Homo sapiens: one gene and its partners. The protein of the gene in region 3 interacts with the protein of the main gene of each other region in a pairwise test. Each region holds a gene or a part of one and is shown on either strand. Other genes may lie near its edges.

Region 1 (3,500 bases), on a different chromosome or scaffold from region 3:
ACTCAATAACTTTGTTTAACCAGTTTTTCGTAAGCTTATTTGGCCAAGAATTCTTTTTAGCATCGTGACCATGAAGATCCATGTCAGGAAATTCTGCCTTACAGGGTTGCTGTGGGGCCTCAGAATGGGCAAGGAACAAGGCCTTACAGAAGGAGGAAGGAGGAGATGGCTGCAGTCAGGGGAGGCAGGCGAAGGCCTGGGTGAGCCGTTCCCCTGTACATTCACAGAATGCTGCCCTGAGTGACATCTGAGTCCCAGGCCTTTGTCTGTGAAGACACAGCTGACCCCGGCAGGAGAGGGGCTTGGGATGAGGGTGGGGTATATGGAGCACTGATTCTTGAGAAGGAGGGGTTGCAATCCTGGGAGTCTCAGAACCCTCCCACGATGTGGTTCCTGCCCCTATCATTGCTTTGCAGGGCAGGCCTGGGGCATGCAGGACGTGCCTGGGTTCCTGTTAGAAGGACCTGGAGGGATGGCTGAAGGGGAGTTAATGGGCTCGTACCTCCATTTGAAGCCTTCCAGTAGGAATGTTTCTGGCTGAAAGTTGAGCCAAGGAAGCCCACAAAGGGCAGGGGCCTGCTCTGTGGGGCTGCAGCAGTGCCATCCCCAGCCACACAGTCTGCCTTAGACACGAGGGATGGTCTAGAAAGGTCTCAAATAATGGAGAGTTTCAAGGTGCCCAGGTATCCTCAATCGGGGACTCTCCCTGAGCTTAACCACAGAGGAGAGCAGAGCCAGGGCAAGGCTGGCACTGAGCAAGGGCCTGGGTGGGGATGTCCTCCACATCCTGGGGGCTACGGTGGGAAGAAAGAGGGTCAGCCAGTGACAGACAGCCAAGCCTGGGGGTGCCTGCAGCTCTTAGGAGAGACCCCCTTTGGCCTTGGTTTTGTGCCTCTACCCTGGATAGCTCTGGAGTCTGGGAAGCATCTCCAACTGCAGCCTCCTCTATTGTGTGGCTTAGCTCGAAGGCTACATCAGCCCCTTCTCCTTCCCACATGCACCTGACGTTTCTGGCTGGGTAGGATGGGGCTTTCTACTCCTGGACTCCCTCGAGCCCAGGCTGGGCCAGAACTCACGACGGCTATCGGGCAGGCGGTGGTGCGGCAGAGACCGAGGGGGAAAGGAAGCAGAGAGAAGGCGCCGGTACCTACGAGAAGGCGGTGCTCGCTCGATTTACCTGGAACACTTCAGTCTGACCGGGCTGCTGGTGGGAGTGCTGCTCACCGCTCTGCTGGCCATGGTGCTGGCTTTGCCACTGCGACCAGACTTCCGAGGGCCGCCCTTGGAACTGCCCGCTACTTTGTCCACTTTCAGCTGAAAGATTCGACACACAGGACACTTCCTTTAAAAGCCATCCCGTGGTTCTGTGAGACCTAAGAACCACTGCGGCTGGAGGGCCTCCCGCTTCTGAAAGGCACGTTCCATCCAGAGCTGGCGGAATGTGTTTGCTATCCTCGTCTTTCTCACTGGCTGACAGATCATAAATGGAGTGGATAAGAGACACAGGAGCCCTTTGCCCAATGGTGCAGGTACTTGGCCAGAGAGGATGGCTCTTCCTGAGGTCACCTGCCAGGTGACTAGGTGCTTTAAGCCTTGGAGTGCTCCTTGCACTTGGTGACTGTGCACAAAGGCCTCCTGCGGGCATCTGGGGGGCAAGGGGCATATCTGTTGCATGCAGAGTGTGGGCTGAGAGAGGGTCTGTCCTCAGCAGTATGGTGTTGGCATGAGGAGGAAGACACACCTGCCCCTGCTCCTGATTCCCTCTCGGTCCACCGAATGCTCTTGAAAGGCATCTGGCCCTGCTAGAGGAAAAGCCTCATCTTGGCATTCCCAACCTCAGCCTCTGCCCCCGAGCAACTCCTCGGAAGCCACACACGCATTATACAAGGTCCCCCTACAGGGCCAAGCACCACAGTCTTTTCCTGCCTGGCTCTTTGGCAGAGTGTTTTCTTTGCGTCAGTTTGTTTGCAGGGGAAGAAATTTGGGCACTGGTCAGACAAGATAAGGTTCCTCTGTGGGAATCAGCAAATTCATTTATAAATGAGAGCCACTTTGCTTCTGTCTACAGTTTATACAAAAAAACAGCCAATGGAAGAAAACAAAAAATAGGAAACATAAGTGGAATTGGTTTTTTACATACGAGAAAGAGTCTTATTCCACTGCCCTGGCTGGAATGCAGTGGTGCAATCATGGCTCACTTCAGCCTTGAAATCCTGGGCTCAACCAATCCTCCAGCCTCAGCCTCCCTCATAGCTGGGACTACAGGCTCATGCCACATTGCCTGACTAATTAAAAAACATTTTTTTTTTAGAGATGGGGTCTGGCTCTGTTGCCCAGGTTGGTCTCAAACTCCTGGCCTCATGCAGTCCCCCTGCTCTGGCCTCCCAAAGTGCTGGGATGAGTGAGCCACTGTGCCTATCCAGTAAGTGGTTTTTTGTCGAAAAACATTTTTGAGATTCAACCAAAGAGGATCCAGTAAGTGGAATTTTGTCTAAAAACGTTTTTGAGATTCAACCAAAGAGGAGGCTTAAAAAAATACCTTCAGAGAAGATACCTTTAAGGAACATCAAAAATCTTAGAAGCTTTTTTTCTTGTTTCAAATCATTCAGTACCATTTTGGAGATAATGGGCTCTCTGTCAAGCTCTGGGTGGCAAGAGAAGCCCCATCTTGTCCCATACTACTCTTTCCAACGATCATGCTGGCCACGGGGAAGCCTCAGGCCCCACCCAACCCCCAGCCTGGGCACTGCGTTAATGTGAGGCCAGGTTAGAAAGTGTTCAGGGAGAAGAATCTCTCTCTCTCCCTCGCTCTCTCTCCCACCCATCCACCCATATATAATGCCTGAGACATAAAGGGCTTTAATAAAATGCATAAGGTCCCTTTAATGCCTTACCATTGGTGCTTTTCAAACTCTACATGATGACAATAGTTGGTAAGGAATTCTATAAAATTGAGGCAGGGTACATTCCCCTCCTTAGCATAAGAGAGATTTAAATCTACTGTGCACATAGGATTCTGCTATAAAAAATTCATCTGCCTATGTGAAATGTCTTTTCCTAATGATCCCACACAAGACCCCAAGGGCCAGGAGGAACTCTTTCATAGAATCGTGTCGACTGGCCTCATTAATTGGCTTAGCAGAGGGAAGGCTGGGTCCACAACTGTGGCAAAGTTAAAACAGTAGCATCGCCAGCTGGAGCTACGAGGAAATTCCCACCTGACAGGCACCTGTCCCATTCTGGAAGCCTGCAGAGGCTGAGCACAAGATGGGGCCTTCAGTGGGTCCATGTTGCTTGGCAGAAGGGTGGAGGGACATAGCCACCTGTGCTGAAGGAAGGGCATGGTAGACTGGGGGAATGTCCTTATGCATTCAGGAAGATGACTGCCACACAGGCTCACCCAGGATGCTGCTGCAATGATGGTTTCCTTGGGGCTTGCCCATCACAAATCAATGCCCTCAGCCCTTCCTCCTTAAAGTACATACCTACCTCTCCTTCCC
Region 2 (3,500 bases), on a different chromosome or scaffold from region 3:
GATTTCTTTTTTTATATACAATTATTGGTTTATGCTATTATCTTTTAAAACTTTAGAAAAAAAAGAAGAGTTACAAACCAAAAATAGGTAGTTCTTTGATGAGTGCTTTTTTTATGTCTTTGTCTGGGTTCAAGTTATTGTCTAATGTCCCTTCATTTCAGCTTGAAGAAGTCCCTTTGTCATTTTTTGTAGGTAAGATCTACTAGAGATAAGCTCAGTTTTTGTCTGTCTGAGAATGTCTTAAATTCTTCTTCATATTGGAAAGATAGTTTGGCCAGATACAAAATTCTTTGTGGATTATTCAATTACTTTGAAGATGTCATCCCATTGCTCTCTGGCTTCCATGATTTCTGATGAAAAATTAGCTGTTAACTTATTGAGGCTCTCTTGTACATAAGTCACTTCACTCTTGCTACTTTTAAGATTATTTTTGGCTTTTAATAGTTTAATTATAACTTGGTGTGGCTCTCTGTTAACTTACATAGAGTTTGTTGAGCTTCTTTGATGTATAGCTTTATGCCTTTTGTCAAATTTCAAAAGTTTTAAACCATTATTTCCTTAAGCATTCTTTCTGTCCCCTTCTCTCCTCTCTTCTGGGACTCCAACTATGCATAACAGTCCCACAGGTTTCTGAGGCTCTGCTCATTTTTATTCATTCTTTTTTTTCCCTGATCTTCAGCATAATCTCAATTGACCTATTTTCAGTTTCATGAATTCTTTCTTTTGCCTGCTCAAATCTGATTTGAACACTTCTTGCGAATTTCTCATTTCAGTTATTATGCTTTTCAACACCATAATTTCTCTTTGGTTCCTTTTTATAACTTCTACATCTTTGCTGGTATTCACTATTTGGTGAGACATCAGTCTCATGGTTTCCTTATTTGCAAATTGTTTCCTTTAGCTATTTGAGAATATTTAAAATAATTGATATAAAATCTTTGTCTAGTGAGTCCAATGTCTGAGCTTCCTCAGGAATAGTTTCTATTAATTTCCTTTTCTCCTGTCCATGGGCCATATGTTCTTATTTATTTATACTTGTTGAATATCCGATACTTTGACAAGTATAATGTGAAATCTCTGGAAATCAGAATCTTCCACCTTCTCTGGGGTTTTTTGTTACTTCTTGTTGTAGTTGTTTTGTTTAGTTAGTGACTTTTCTAAACAAATTTTGTAAAGTCTGTATTCTTCGTCACATGTAGCTACTGAATTCTGTCCCATGAACTTAGTAGTCATCTAATAGTTCAACAGAGATTTCCTTAAATGCCTAGAATCAACCCAAATCAAACAACAACAACAACAAAAACCTCCCAGTCTTTGTAAATGGGCTTCGTATATGTTGAGCATGCCTTCAACACACAGTTTACAACTTCCTTAGTCCTCAGTTCCTGCTTACACAGATCCTAAAAGTCACTCCGAGAAGAAAACTTGGGGTCTTTCTCAGGTTTTTTTTTTTTTTTTAGTATGCACTCAGTCCTGGGCATGCAGTTGGCCTTCTAGATTACCAGGAATATGTGGGTACTTTTCAAAGGGTATTCCCCAAAATAACTCTTTCCCCAGCCTTTCTTTCTCAGCTTTTTGGTTACTCTATTGTTTGCCCCAACTATTATGCCTTTCCCCAGGTGGCAGCAATAAAAACATTTGCTTTTAAATGTTTCCAAACTATACCTCCAGGGTAGCCATCTCATCTGTGAAAAAGTTCTGAGTTAAACAAACTAATGGCAAGCCTTTTATGTAATACTTCATGGAAGCACCAGACAGGTCAAAGCCACAGTTCTTTGGGAATAAGGTCCATGCTGCTCCCACTTGTACTATGTACCTGTAGTTGGAATGTCAGCTGTCTTTAAAACCACCACCAAGATGGGAAATGAGGAAAACCTGAGTAAGTTAAAGTGTTAAAAAGTTATTTTACAGAGATTCAAGGTTTTATTTAATTATTATTAAATATTTCCCTGGTTGCTGTAAGCTTTTGATTAGTTTCAAGTTTTAAAAAACTCGATCTTCAAAATTTTTGCCAGTTTTTGTGGAGGGATGGACTTTGGGACTTCTCTACTCCACCATTTTTTTTATTATTATTATACTTTAAGTTTTAGGGTACATGTGCACAATGTGCAGGTTAGTTACATATGTATACATGTGCCATGTTGGTGTGCTGCACCCATTAACTCATCATTTAGCATTAGGTATATCTCCTAATGCTATCCCTCCCCCCTCCCCCCACCCCACAACAGTCCCCAGAGTGTGATGTTCCCCTTCCTGTGTCCATGTGTTCTCAGTGTTCAATTCCCACCTATGAGTGAGAACATGCAGTGTTTGGTTTTTTGTCCTTGCAATAGTTTACTGAGAATGATGATTTCCAATTTCATCCATGTCCCTAAAAAGGACATGAACTCATCATTTTTTATGGCTGCATAGTATTCCATGGTGTATATGTGCCACATTTTCGTAATCCAGTCTATCATTGTTGGACATTTGGGTTGGTTCCAAGTCTTTGTTATTGTGAATAGTGCCACAATAAACATACATGTGCATGTGTCTTTATAGCAGCATGATTTATAGTCCTTTGGGTATATACCCTGTAATGGGATTGCTGGGTCAAATGGTATTTCTAGTTCTAGATCCCTGAGGAATCACCACACTGACTTCCACAATGGTTGAACTAGTTTACAGTCCCACCAACAGTGTAAAAGTGTTCCTATTTATCCACATCCTCTGTAGCACCTGTTGTTTCCTGACTTTTCAATGATGCCATTCTAACTGGTGTGAGATGGTATCTCATTGTGGTTTTGATTTGCATTTCTCTGATGGCCAGTGATGGTGAGAATTTTTTCATGTGATTTTGGCTGCATAAATGTCTTCTGAGAAGTGTCTGTTCATGTCCTTTGCCCACTTTTTGATGGGGTTGTTTTTTTCTTGTAAATTTGTTTGAGTTCATTGTAGATTCTGGATATTAGCCCTTTGTCAGATGAGTAGGTTGCGAAAATTTTCTCCCATTTTGTAGATTGCCTGTTCACTCTGATGGTAGTTTCTTTTGCTGTGCAGAAGCTCTTTAGTTTAATTAGATCGCATTTGTCAATTTTGGCTTTTGTTGCCCTTGCTTTTGGTGTTTTAGACATGAAGTCCTTGCCCATGCCTATGTCCTGAATGGTAATGCCTAGGTTTTCTTCTAGGGTTTTTATGGTTTTAGGTCTAATGTTTAAGTCTTTAATCAGTCTTGAATTAATTTTTGTATAAGGTGTAGGGAAGGGATCCAGTTCCAGCTTTCTACATATGGCTAGCCAGTTTTCCCAGCACCATTTATGAAATAGGGAATCCTTTCCCCATTGCTTGTTTTTCTCAGGTTTCCAAAGGTTAGATAGTTGTAGATATGCGGCATTATTTCTGAGGGCTCTGTTCTGTTCCATTGATCTCTATCTCTGTTTTGGTACCAGTACCATGCTGTTTTGGTTACTGTAGCCTTGTAGTATAGTTTGAAGTCAGGTAGCATGATGCCTCTAGCTTTG
Region 3 (2,782 bases):
TCACAGGAAACCCTTGCAAATAACGGGTGTCCATCACCTAGCTCATGCACTGTGTTCAACAACACTGGGACAAAAGCGCAAGACACCTTCCATTCCTGCCCCAGGTAGAGGCTCCTCTCTGTTCATCCATTGTCACAAAGGAACCGCTCAGAGCACTTTTCCAATCTGGGCTTTTCCCTCTCCCTCTGAGAATCTGGCCCTGGACCCACCAAGCTTCATTAGAATCAGATCCCTCAGAAGAAAATGGAGTTTCCCAAAGCCCAAAAGGCCCCACACAGGGAATTTACACCCGACCACTCTCACCTGGAGCCCCATACCCACACTCGTTACTTTTCCCCTACATCTTAGAGGACATCTTGTCACCTTAATTATATGACCGCGCTCCTAGACTCTTAATACCCTATCGGTAGGTGTGTGTCTGGCTTACCCTAGTATCTCCACTACTAATCCTGGGCCTTCCACAGAGCAGATGCTCAGTGCATAGAGAAGAAATGAGCCAGTTAACAGAAAGAATTATTTATTCAGATTTAATTTCTCTTACATTCACGAAGCCAAGGAAATCCAGGTATGCATATATATTTTTTAAATTTTACAGAATAGACTGAGGCATAAGGCGGGAATTAAGTATCTTTTAATTTATCTCACCTATTTCACGGTGAATTCACACTTCTAAATACTTACTCCACTGCTGTTATTATGTCCCAAATTCACAAAATAGAACGGATTTCCCAATCTGAATAAAAAACAAGACTCTTACTCCTAAACTATATTAACAGCAATATACGTTAACTACGATTCATAAACTTGGATGCTGAAGTTAATTCAACCATCCATTAAAAGGAACATTTCAACAATTGTAAAAGGAAACAGAGATAAATCTCCAAGTCATCCAACAAAATAGAAACCCACTACTAAGAACACTGACTATTTTCTTCAAACAGAGTGAAGAATGGGCCTCATGTTACACGAGGCAAGGGAAGCTGCTGCACAGGGCTGTTAGATGCACTGGCCCAGCCCTGCCCCTTCCCCACAGCCCTGGCTGCAACTCATGCTCAGACTCCCTCTTCCTCCTCTAACAAAGCTGCTTCACGCAGGGATGGGTAGGCAATGCGAACTCTTGCATTGACCCTGACCACATGCTCCAGGACTTTCACATAGCTGGTTTCAGCCAGAGCCCTTGGACCCCACAGGAACTCATAGCGCGCAGGATTACTGCCGGGTACCTGCCGGTACTCCAGGTAGTTTTCCTGCACCCAATCTTGGGTGAGCAGTTTCCTGGGCTCCCCATAGACAGTGTGCTCCCTCCCATCATACACCCCCATCACACCCAGCTCCTCCCAGATTTCCTCCTCAGAGGCGCTGTCGCCCTCCATTGCAATTGTGCCCAGGACGATTATCAGAAGGCCTGTCTTGGGAAAGATCTGATTATTACCCAGCAGGCCATCATAGGAAAGGCCCAGGCAGGTGACAAGGGTGTAGGTGTTGCTGGCGGGGTCCACTTCCTTCACGTCAATGCCAAAGATCATCTTCAGGGACTCGGAGGCTTTGCCGAAGATCACAGGAAAGCAGCGCTTGTAATTTTTGATGACTCTCTCCAGCATTTCTGCCTTTGTGACCAGCTCCTTGGCTCGATACTTGCGGAGCAGAAAATGAGCCAACTCATCCACCTTGTTACTGAGTGCTTCTCGGAACAAGGACTCTGCGTCAGGCGAGGTGCTTGGCCCCTCCTCTTCTTGGCTGCTGGAACCCTCATTGGGTTGCCTCCAGCAAGTGAAGCTGATGGTAGTGGGTAAGGCAGAGGCTCCCTGAGGACTCTGGGGAGGACCTGCTGACTCAGCAGCAGGCACTTCCTCCAGGGTGCCAGGGACCAGAGGAGAGGAGGAGGAGACAGCAGCCTCCTGCTCCTCAGTAGTAGGAGCCTGTGCACCCACCAGGCCCAGGGCCTCTTCTTGGGCCTCAACGCCTTCCTCAGGCTTGCAGTGCTGACTCTTCTGCTCAGAAGACATGATGACTCTGGTCAGGGCAGCAGGCAAGAGTGCAGGCAAAAGCTGGGCAATGGGGACCCACAGGCCTACGGAGAGAGGGAGCATGTGAGAGACCTCAGCTGAGAACCAAATCTTAGAGGCTCTAACAAAGGCTTACTTACAGATCTTCTCCTTGGTGCTCCTCTGTGGCCTCCAGGGAATCCTGTCCTCCGGTTGGCCTGTCTGCTCAGAACCTGAAGGAGGAAGTGAGAGAGCACCTCAGGGTATAGCCGGCCAGCAGAGGTCGATTCTGCAGGATTGATGGTAGGGAGGTGAGGCCAGACTCTTTGGAGTCCTATGTGTCTTGTGGCAGGTGGGGCCCTTGGTGTGCATTCAGGGCAAACATTCACTGCTGGCACAGCCTGTGCATCCTCTGCTCTGTAACCTGAGGACACTGTCTCAGACCAAGGCCTCACTGCCTTGTTCCTGGAGCTCCTAGGAGAGGAATCCATGGGCCCTTAGGGTGCAGACTGTAAGCACAGCCCCGGTCCCTCAGTGCCATCAAGAGGGTAGGCTGGACTCTGTGAGGTCCCCACTCTCATGGAGTGGATGATCCCCACTGTGTTCACTCAGGGCCCTCACATTTCTCCAGGCAGGGCCTGGATCCCACTCTTTTGCTGGCCTGAGAAACTCAGATCAAGAGCTCACATGCCTGAGAGGGAACAGGACCTAAGAAACCCCACATCTGGCCACCTGTGCCTAGGTCTTCCGAAGAACGACAGCAAAAGATGTCGAAATTCATTGGAACCCATGTGTCC
Region 4 (3,289 bases), on a different chromosome or scaffold from region 3:
CATCCCTCAGCTCGGGGTCCCTTCCTCCACCTTCACAGCCATGCGCAGCCTCTTCCAGTCTCTCTCTGATTCACCCTCCTGCCACCTCTTGTGAGGACACTGGGTCCCGGACCACCCAGGATCATCTCCCAGCTCAAGACCTTTCATCATACCCAAGCCCCTCTTGCCAGGTGAAGTTGCGCATCTGCAGGTTCCAGGAATAGGATGTGGCCGTCTCAGGACACCCTGTCCCTCTGGCCACAGGGAAGCCAGGCCTGTGACAGCACTCGCCTCCCCTGCAGGGACTGGGCCTTTGTGGGCACAGCACAGCCTCCCCTAGCGCACGGGACTTCCTCCCCAGGTGGGTGGCTCATCGGGCACTTGTGGCCAGGTGCTGGCCTGAGAACAGGTATCCACATGGTCCCACCTTGACAGGGAGCCACACCCAGCCCCCAAGCCATCCGCTCTTCAGCAGGTGGGCCTGCCCTGTGTCCCACGGTTTCAACGGAGAACCAAGAAACTATATTCAAACAACCTGTTTATTTGGGCTTATGATTTACTAACTGCAGGTCTATGTGCAGGAAGGCCAGCATCCCCTCCTGCCGTTGTCACCCACATCCACAGAGCAGCCCTAGTGCCAGGTGCAGCCACTGCCACCCACGGCACACGGGAACAGGACCCATGCTGCAGGCCTGCTCTCCTGCCCAGGGAGATGCCACGTGTGTCTGTCCGGCAGCTTCATGACACAGTTACCAAGCAGCTAGGGAGGGCTTAGATTTGTTGGTGTCCCCAGGCCTCTCCCTCGGGGGCTTGGGCGCATCCCCACAGCCCCCAAGGGATGGGGGCTCTGCCACGGGGCCCAATTCCACAGCTCCACGGCTGGCGCCCCTCCCGTGCCCATGGGGCAGAGCCAAGTATTTCCAGAGGTGGCTTGGAGGCCCTGGGGTGGCGGGGAGAGGAACAGGGAGAGCATGAGACAGACCCACAGGGCTGAGGCCAACCCTGCTTTTATTTCACAAGAGCTTCTCGATGGCTGACAGGAGCTCGGGTTTCAGGATGGAGTCCGGCTCGGCCCCCGCGGCCTTGATGTCCTCCAGCACAGCCATGTCCCACGAGAAGGTCAGGAGGGCAGAGGGCACCTGCGGTAGGGGTAGGCCGTCACTCTGAGACCGAGAGTCGGCCCTTGCCGCGGCAGGGAACTCAGCGGGCAACCTGGGCGCGGGGATGCCCCGGCCTGGAAGCCATCTCAGCTGGTGGAGGCTGTGGCTCGCACCCAGGCCTCCTGCCCTCTCCCTCCGGGACTCCAGGACCTAAGCCTAAACCTACTGCACTAGCTAACGCACGTCACCGCTCCCATTTGATGGGGAAACTGAGGCGTGGAGTAGTTATGAACTTGCTCGAGGCCCTGCTGCCAGTAAGTGGGAAAGCAGGATTCAAACCCAGGGACCTGCCCAGGCCCCCTGCTCTGAGAACAAGGAGGCTCCCTCCTGGGGGTGTCTGTGCCGGTCCCAGGAGAACCTGCAGAGGCATCGGGTCAGCGGTGCTCCTGCGGGCCGACACTCACCAGCCCGCACTCGTTCAAGGCCAGGTTCTCGTCCTCGGACAGCTTCTGCCCTCCCGAGGCCAGCAGCTCAAAAGGCAGCCAGTCGCTCTGCAGGGCCTCCCGGACGAACCCGTACACCGCCCCCAGCCGCTCCCGAGCGTAGAAAGTGCCTGGGGAGTGGGGGAGTCAGAGCGGGTGGGGCCCAGGGCCCCCTACCAACCCGAGCCGCCCTCCACGGGCATCGTTGGTGCCCACCCTGCAGGAGGCAGCCATCGGGGAGGCGCACGCGCAGCAGCGTGTAGTTGTACTTGCGCAGCCCCCGCTGCTCCTCCTTCTCCCGCATGGCCTTGGTCCGCAGCACGCTCAGCCGCTCCACCGCCTCGGACCTGCACACGCGGGCCAGGTCACGAGGGCTGGCCGGGGTTCTTCCACCCCGCCCCGCCCCACTCTGCTCCGCGGACGTCAGGCCCACCTGAGCCTCTGCTCCCGCTTGATCTCCTCTGCTGTGAGGTTGAAGAAGTCCCCAGGCAGTTCGAACTGCGAGGCCAGGGGCGAGGGCTGGAAGACGCGGCGCTGCCTGTCCAGCTTGGCGCGCACGGGCTCCGCAGCCAGCAGCTGTTCCTTGTGCCTCTCCAGGCTCTGGGGCTGGGCCAAGGTGGTCTCGCTCAGCACGTAGAACTCCTCGGGGTCCTCTACAGCGTGGCAGGACATGGGTGTCACTGTGCAATGGAGAGACCCCCAAGCCGGGCCCTCCTGCCCCGAGGCCCCTCGTCCCCATTCCCTACTCAGCCAGGCCCTGTCCACTTACCCTGATCCTGGGCGGGAAGCAACACCTTCTGGAACCCAATGGCCTCAAAAAACTCGTGGGTCCCTTCCAGGCAGTTAATGCGCTCCTGGGGGTGGAGATGGGCGTCACTGGGGGCCCCTGGCTTCCTCCATGGCCTGGCCACACCCCACCCAGTCCAGGGGCCCGGCTCTCGCTATTGGGAGCAGCTGTCGACCCCTGGATGGGGCCCAGCCCTGGGGGTGCCTCAGTGCTGGATGCAAACCTGCTTTTCTACGGTGGGGGCTGTGGAGTCTCCAACAGCTCTGCACAGAGGAAAGAGTCACAACCAGGCACGAAGAGTGAGGCTGAGGAGCCAGACACTGCTGGGGCCTGATGCGAGGCTAACACCGCCCAGGACCCCAGTCCCTGCCCTTTCCCCCAGAAGAACCAGACATCTGGTTTGCATGAGAAACCTCCCCAGAGTCGACATGTTCCCAAACAAGCCCAGCTGAAGAGGAGGAAAAGGATGCAGGTGAGGAGAGGCAGAATTTGTTGATTTGGGGTGACCGGTGCATAAAAGTCTTGCTCTCCATCTTGTCCTGCTACCTTCTACTGGCCGAACCCTTCACTGCTTGTGGCTCAACTCTCGCTAGCTCCTCCAGGGAGCCCACCGCCTGGTGTGGGCCACCACCGGCTCCTGCAGGCCAGCTGCCCCCACCCCCAGCCTGGGCCCCGGGGGCCAGAAGGCACGCCCACCTGAAACACCTTGTTCTGCAGCTTGATCTTCCGGTACTTCTCCTCCTCGGGGTGCAGGTGGATGTTGTCCAGGTACCTGGGGTAGGTGGAGAAGGTGAGTGGGGCACAGCCCAGGCTGCCCACCCGGCCCCTCTGTGCCTCCTGCTCCAGGTAACAGCAGCTCAGCCACACTTGGCCTCTAGTCAGAGGGAAGAAGCGGCCCAGTGACGCGAGGGCAGCAGACCATCTCCGGGTGGAAGGCACAC

The links. The genes of interacting proteins can lie anywhere in the genome.
Region 1: the proteins of MAGEA4 (region 3) and ARNT2 interact in a two-hybrid assay, tested with the Homo sapiens proteins (one large-scale study listed by BioGRID and IntAct).
Region 2: the proteins of MAGEA4 (region 3) and TRIM69 interact in binary tests that used the Homo sapiens proteins (3 or more experiments, as listed by UniProt).
Region 4: the proteins of MAGEA4 (region 3) and UBXN6 interact in binary tests that used the Homo sapiens proteins (3 or more experiments, as listed by UniProt).

The regions. Positions count from the first base shown.
Region 1 is NC_000015.10:80,589,382-80,592,881, reverse strand, and holds part of ARNT2 (aryl hydrocarbon receptor nuclear translocator 2), read right to left. Parts: intron 1,315-3,500; coding exon 1,178-1,314; intron 1-1,177. UniProt on the Homo sapiens protein: Transcription factor that plays a role in the development of the hypothalamo-pituitary axis, postnatal brain growth, and visual and renal function. Specifically recognizes the xenobiotic response element (XRE).
Region 2 is NC_000015.10:44,743,028-44,746,527, reverse strand, and holds part of TRIM69 (E3 ubiquitin-protein ligase TRIM69), read right to left. Parts: intron 1-3,500.
Region 3 is NC_000023.11:151,922,889-151,925,670, reverse strand, and holds the end of MAGEA4 (melanoma-associated antigen 4), read right to left. Parts: intron 2,460-2,782; exon of another isoform or gene 2,219-2,459; 5' UTR 2,147-2,218; intron 2,072-2,146; 5' UTR 2,007-2,071; coding exon 1,053-2,006; 3' UTR 501-1,052; downstream 1-500. UniProt on the Homo sapiens protein: Regulates cell proliferation through the inhibition of cell cycle arrest at the G1 phase. Also negatively regulates p53-mediated apoptosis.
Region 4 is NC_000019.10:4,444,506-4,447,794, forward strand, and holds the end of UBXN6 (UBX domain-containing protein 6), read right to left. Parts: exon of another isoform or gene 3,121-3,289; coding exon 3,045-3,120; exon of another isoform or gene 2,683-3,044; coding exon of another isoform or gene 2,600-2,682; exon of another isoform or gene 2,416-2,599; coding exon 2,331-2,415; exon of another isoform or gene 2,215-2,330; coding exon 1,995-2,214; exon of another isoform or gene 1,909-1,994; coding exon 1,778-1,908; exon of another isoform or gene 1,693-1,777; coding exon 1,544-1,692; exon of another isoform or gene 1,119-1,543; coding exon 993-1,118; 3' UTR 501-992; downstream 1-500. UniProt on the Homo sapiens protein: May negatively regulate the ATPase activity of VCP, an ATP-driven segregase that associates with different cofactors to control a wide variety of cellular processes.